2 linked regions of the Homo sapiens genome follow. The protein of the gene in region 2 interacts with the protein of the main gene of each other region in a pairwise test. Each region holds a gene or a part of one and is shown on either strand. Other genes may lie near its edges.

What was found. The genes of interacting proteins can lie anywhere in the genome.
Region 1: the proteins of C1GALT1 (region 2) and LEPROT interact in a two-hybrid assay, tested with the Homo sapiens proteins (one large-scale study listed by BioGRID).

The regions. Positions count from the first base shown.
Region 1 is NC_000001.11:65,423,668-65,427,167, forward strand, and holds part of LEPROT (leptin receptor gene-related protein), read left to right. Parts: intron 1-1,635; coding exon 1,636-1,711; intron 1,712-3,500. UniProt on the Homo sapiens protein: Negatively regulates leptin receptor (LEPR) cell surface expression, and thus decreases response to leptin. Negatively regulates growth hormone (GH) receptor cell surface expression in liver.
Region 2 is NC_000007.14:7,189,044-7,192,543, forward strand, and holds part of C1GALT1 (glycoprotein-N-acetylgalactosamine 3-beta-galactosyltransferase 1), read left to right. Parts: intron 1-3,500. UniProt on the Homo sapiens protein: Glycosyltransferase that generates the core 1 O-glycan Gal-beta1-3GalNAc-alpha1-Ser/Thr (T antigen), which is a precursor for many extended O-glycans in glycoproteins.

The DNA.
Region 1 (3,500 bases), on a different chromosome or scaffold from region 2:
GTATACTTTCAGATGTTTTTTAAAAAGCACTTTGGCACCTTCCTATTAAAGAGTCTCTCTAAATCTTCTCTCAAGTAAAAGGAAGCAATCAAAAATGTTCATTGGCTTAATTAATTAGTTTAATACTAATTATGAGTATTATGGACTTTTTTCAGAAGAAAATTTGGATAAGATAGTCTCCTATGCTTTTGATTTCTACCTTTATCAAAGAACATTGCTAAAATGAGTAGATACCTGAGTCAGTCAGCATTTATTTGGCTACCTCCTTTTGCCAAGCACTTTACATAGATTATCTCATTTAATTCCCATAAGCTCAATAAGGTGGCACCATTATTTCCATTTTACAGGTGAGAAATCAGGTTCAGAGGATTAGCTTCTACCCAAAGTCATAAGACCAGATGGTGGCAGAGTTAAGATTTGACTCATGTTTGTGACTCAGAGCTCAAGATTTTGTAACAACCTTGATACTCTGTTTCTCACTCAGCAGCACAACAAGGGCAAATACGTTCCTACTCCCGCAGAGACTAGTGTCCAATAGATACAGGGAATACATATTTTATTCAGTGCACACTAGTTGGGAATTGTTTCCTACAAAGACATGAAAACAATCTTCAAATACTTGCAGTACTGTGGTTTGGGGAGGCAAAATGATCAAAGGTATATATTACAGGGAGGCAGTTCTGGATATAATTTAAAGAAGGAGGGCTTTCAACATTTAGAAGCTGTTGGAATTAAATGACTTGCCTTGGGAGGTAGTGAGTTTTCCTTCACTGGAGTTATGTGGACCAACTGGCTGCCCTCTGGTGACAAATACAGAGGGAATTCATCCATTGGATAGGGGTTAGGTACTGGAATTACTTGAGACCTTTGTATACTTTATGATTTCAAGGTGGCAGACATGGGTCATTGTCTTAATCAGTTTGGGCTACTATAAGAAATATATTTTAGACTGGGTGGCTTAAACAACAAACATTTAGTTTCCACAGTTCTGAAGACTGGGAAGTCCAAAATTGTGGTGCAGTCAGATCTGGTGTCTGGTGAGAGCCAGCTTCCTGGTTTGCAGGCCTGCTTTCTGCTCTCACATTGGAGAACAGAGGGAGAGAAACACAGAGAGAGTGTGTGCTCTACTTTCTCTCTTCTTATAAGGGCACTCATCCCATCGTGGAGACCCCACCCTCATGACCTCATCTGAACCTAATTATCTCCCAAAGGTCCACCTCCTGATAGCATCTCACGGTGAGAGGGATGGAGCCGGGAAGGTTTCAACATGTGAATTTGAAAGGGACACACATAATGCAGTCTGTAACGGGTCAAATGTAACCTCAATAAAATGAGTAAATTGCTACATTTGCTTGAATTTGGGACCTTTTTTTCTTTCTTTTTTATTTTAGTAAATGTTTTTATTGATAAATGATTCACATACCATAAAATTAACATTCTTAAAGTGTAAGATTTCATGGTTTTTAGTATATTCAGAAGGTTATGCAGCCATCACTACTATCTAATTCCAGAAAATTTACTCATCCGCCAAAGAAACTCTGGACCTATTAGAAGTCACTCCCCATTTCCCCAAACCCTCTAGTGCCTGACAACCTCTACTGTGGGAACTTTAACTTTTGGCTTTATTTTTCACAGCTCTCGTGGCATTATCCTTCAGTGGGGCTATTGGACTGACTTTTCTTATGCTGGGATGTGCCTTAGAGGATTATGGGTAAGTTATCATTTCAAAAAGAACTATTCCTCTTTCTGTGTCTTTGTCACTATTAGTATGGGTGTTAGAGAGTTCGGTCAATTTAGCACCAAGTTCTAACCAGTGAGTTAGTGGAGCCCAGTTTATGAACACAGTCCCTTTGTGGGTCAGGTGTACTTTTGCAGAGGGCTCTGTTAAAAATTGATGTATTCATTCCATAAGCATTTGTTTAACACCTACTCTGGACTAGCTGGGGACACACAAATGAAGAGAGAGTCCTGTCCTCAAAGAGGAGGTAAAGTTCTAGTTGTGAGTGAGAGACAGGCAAACGGTCTAGTCAGTAATCTGGCAGCTGCAGTGGAGATGCCAGCACAGTACGCTGGAGCTCGGATAAAGTGCACCTGAGTTTCAGTGGGACAGTCAGGGAAGGCTGCATGGCAGAGGTTGTATCTGAGCCAAGACTAGGTGGATGAATAAGAGTTTTTCAGGGTGATGAGTCAGGGGAGGACATTCCAGGCAGAGGGAACATTCTACACATTTTTTCATTCAACCATTGTTGGTTGAATGCTTCCCATGTGCCAGCTACTGTTATGGGAACTAGGGATTAAGACATAAGAAAACAAAGGTCCTGCTCTCTCAGAGTTTGTGTTTCAGTGGGGGAGACGGACAGTAAACAACAAAAGTATGCATACTGTCAGAGGTAGAAATGGTACAAAAGATGAAGAGCACAGAAGCTGGGAAGACAGTGGTCAGGGAGGGCCTCTCAGAGGAGGTAAAAAGTGAGAAGAAATGTCAAGAAAATCAGCAAGCAGGCCATACAGATCTCTAGGGAAAAAGCACTTTAGGCACCAGGAAAGCTGAATGCTAAGGCCCGGAGACATGAAAGTGTATATAGCCTTTTCAGGAAACCACACATGGTACATTATGGTACAGCATAAATTGTAGTGGAGTGGCAAAAGAAGGGTTAGTCAAGAGTGTAAAAGTCAGCACTTAGGGCTCTATATGCCTGCCGTGTAGAGGAGGTTCCATTTTATACATCAGACAATAGAACCTGGGAAAATATCTTGAGAATGGGTTTGGAGGAGGGGGTTATGTTAAAATGTCATTCTTGCCATAACGTGAGACTAGATAGGAAAGAGCTGAGACTGCAGTCAGGGAGAATAGTAGGGGACTACTATCATAAATCAAGCAAAATTGAGGGCTGGGGCAGTAGGAATGGAAAGAAAAGGAGAGTGAGTTAGGAAACCAAACCAACCAACAGGTTTTGTTCATCGATGTCAGGATTCAACAAGGAGGGAGAGTTCTTAGATGTCTCCCAGGTGATTGGCTTGAACAACTAGATAGAAGATGATGTGATTAGGCCAGGCACCATGGCTCACGCCTGTAATCCCAGCACTTTGGGAGGCTGAGGCGGGCAGATCACGAGGTCAAGAGATCGAGACCATCCTAGGCAACATGGTGAAACCCCATCTCTACTAAAAATACAAAAAATTAGCTGGGCGTGGTGGCACACGCCTGTATTCCCAGCTACTTAGGAGGCTGAGGCAGGAGAATTGCTTGAACACAGGAGGTGGAGGTTGTAGTGAGCCAAGATCGTGCCACTGCACTCTAGCCTGGCGACAGAGCAAGACTTTGTCTCCAAAAAAAAAAAAAAGATGATGATGATGTGGTTAAGACCTATTGAAGTGAGTTATTATGACAGTGATGAATTCAAATCCATCACCGCAGTCCTGGCCAACTATTACAGAAATTGTTTAAACCCAAGAGGGATCCAGATATAAGCGGTCACTTATATTTGTTTAGAGCCTTC
Region 2 (3,500 bases):
TTTCTGATGTTTAAAAAAATACCCAGTATACCTTATTAACAATAAAAAGTAACCTTTGTCAAAAGCACAAAGATTTTCCCTATCAGCACATGTAGATCATTGTTTTTAACAGCTACTACTATTCTATGCTATGGCTCTATCTTTTTTTTAAAAAACTGGTTCCTCATCAACAGACAGACGTCTTATGGTTATGGCTGTCGAGCATCTTGGCTGACTTCTATGATTATATCTGTAAAATAAGTTTCTGATCATGAAGTGATATATCAAGGCATAATTAGTTAAAAATTTAAAAAGATGTTGTGAAATGCCCTTCCAAAAGACAGTAAAAGTATGTATTATGAGAAAGAATACAGGACTACCAGTTTTCTTGTATCTGTGTCAATAACAGCTGTTAATAAACTTTAAAAGTTTTGCCAATATGTTAGGTTAAAAATAATATCTCTTCATTTGATTTACCTTTGTGAGTGAAATTTGAACATCGTTGACCATTTTTTACTGTGAATCTTTTATTTTCTTTATCTGTTTTTGTATTTGGTTAACTATCTTTTTTATTATTTATGATACTTTTTGGTTCTTTTTGCTGTACATTAAAAAAATATATTTCATAAAGAAATATGCCCTTTAACCAGCGACTTCATTGCCAGAAGTTTATCCAATGAATAAACTCATAGTGTTTTAATAGTCACAGCTTCTGAGTGTGGGAGAGATCTCAATTCGTAATATCAAAATGCAAAAATATATTTTCTTCCAGTTTTGTTTTAATTCCATTTTCTAAAATACTGAAATCTTAGAAACATTTGAAATTGTTACTAGAAAGTAAGGATCCAGCTGGTTTTGTTTTTTTTTCCCCAAAAGATTAATTAATTCAATACCATTTCTTCAATAAGCCACCTTTTTCTTGATTTGAAATGCTGTTTATTATGTATTAAATTTCCACATGAATTTTTGTTTTCCATAGAGTCTTTATTTCAACCTGATGAAGTCCCTTTATAAGATTCATCTGGTAGAGACCACCAGGGACACATCTGTAGGCTGACAAAGGTTAATTAGCTTGCTGCAGTGAAGGAGACTTGCACAGCAGAGGAAATGTCAGCATTTCTAAAGAAGGAACCAGGGTTATTATAGGATTTTGGAGAATGGTGGAGTTTGGATAAAGTTTAAACGCAACAATATTTGATAAGCTTAAAGCACGGCAAGACTGTGTGTCAAGGGTTAATAAACATCAGGCCTGGGCTGAGAAGCTGACTCAGGATTCTGATTCCCTGGAGACTACAAAATCGCGATACATGTGGAATGTTGTGTCTGGAAACCCCTTATCTGAAGCTCTGAGTTGCAAAGTGAGGTTGCTTCTGTTTCATAATGATCTACCATCAGTGCGAGAGTGGGATGTTCCATTCTCACTTTATAAAATTTCAAATAACATAGTTTCTGACAGTCTGATGTAGAGAACAGTTTCTCAGCACATTGTCTTTAGTATTAACAAATGCATTTTTTTAAACAGACTGAGAGTTTGTTCAGCATAAATACCAAATTGTTTTCATTACCTTTTTTAAGGTAATATATTTTTATATGTAGTAAACTTTGTCTCTTCCCCTTCCCCAGTTCCCCTTTCAAGAGTTTTCCAGTGATACTCACCTATTTTTCCAGATAACATTTAGAATAATTTTTGCCACATTAATTTTTTAAAATCTTTTTTATAACTTAAAATTGATCAGATCAGATTAGTACACCCCTTCCCACAATGCCCCTTTCCAGAATTTCCCAGTTACACCCACATGTTTATTGGTCCAAAGTTTTAGAATACTTTTTGCCAAGTTATATAATTTTTTAAAATCTTCCTGTGTTTTAGCTGGGATTACTTTACATACAGGTTAATTCGGAGGAAATCAACATCATTATCATTGATACCTTTTTTTTTCCAAACTTTTTAAAATTTTGGTAAAATACATACAAAGTTTACCATCATAATCATTTTTAAGTTTATAGATCAGTGGTATTAACTACATTTATATTGTTGTGCAACCATCACCGCTGTTTATCTCCAGAACTCTTTATTTTGTAAAACTGAAGCTCTATATCCGTTTAAACGATAGCTCTCCATTCTCACCTTTCCACAGGCCCTGGAAACCAAAAGCCTACTCTGTCTCTGATTTTTCACTACTTTAAAGTACTTCATGTAGGTGGAATTGTGCATTATTTGTCCTTTTGTGATTGGCTTATTTCATTTAGCAAAATGTCCTCAAGATTCATTCATTTTGTAGCATATATCAGAATTTCCTTACTTTTCAAGGCTGAATACTATTCCATTGTATGTAAATACATTTTGCTTGTTCATTCATCCTCAGTGAACACGTGGTTTGCTTCACATTTTAGCTCTTGTGAATACTGCTGCAATGACCATGAGTGTACAAATACTTTCTTGAAACCCTGCTCTCATTGGGTATATATCCAGAAGTGGAATTGCTGGATCATATGGTAATTCTATTTTTAATTTTTTGAGGAATTTTCATACTGTTTTCCATAGCAGAAATAACATTTTACTTTCATACCAATAGTATACAAGGGTTCCAGTTTCTCCACATTCTCTTCAACACTTAACAATTTTCTGAATTTTGATGGTAACCATTGTTATGGGTATAAGGTAGCATCTCATTGTAGTCTTGATTTGTTTTGCTAATGATTAGAGATGTTGAGTATCTTTTCATCTGTTTATTGGCCATTTGTGTATCTTAGGAGAAATGTGTATTTGAGTCTTTTGCACATTGTTGAATCAGGTTGATTTTTTTTGTTTGAGTTTTAGGAATTTTCTATATATTTTGGATACTAATCTCTTATCAGATAATACGATTTGCCTGTATTTTCACCCATTCTGTGGCTTGCCTTTTACTGTTGATAGGGTCTTCTGGTGCACAAATTTAAAAATTTTTCATCAAATCTAATTTGCCAATATTTTCTTTCAGTGACTCTGCCTTTGTTGTCACATCCAAGAAATCATTGCCAAATATAATGTCATGAAGCTCTTTTGTTCAATGTTCTAAGAATTTTATAGTTTTAGGTCTTATATTTAGGTCTTTGATCCATTTTGAGTTACTTTTTCTTCTTTTTTTTTTATTTCAATAGGCTTTTGGGGAACAGGTGGTGTTGGGTTACATGGATATGTTTTTTGGTAATGATTTTTGAGATTTGGGTGCACCCCTCACCCAAGCAGTGTACACAGTACCCAATGTGTAGTCATTTATCCCTCACCCCCTCCCACCCTTTACTTCAAGTTCCCAAAGTCCATTGTATCATTCTATGCCTTTGCATCCTCATAGCTTAGTTCCCATTTATGAGTGACAACTTACAATGTTTGGTTTTCCATTCCTGAGTTACTTTACTTAGAATAATGGTCTCCACCTCCATCCAGGTTGCTGTGAATGCCATTATTTCATTATTTTTTATGGCTGAGTAGTATTCCGTGGTGTGTGTGTGTGTATATTATACATACCACATTTTCTTTA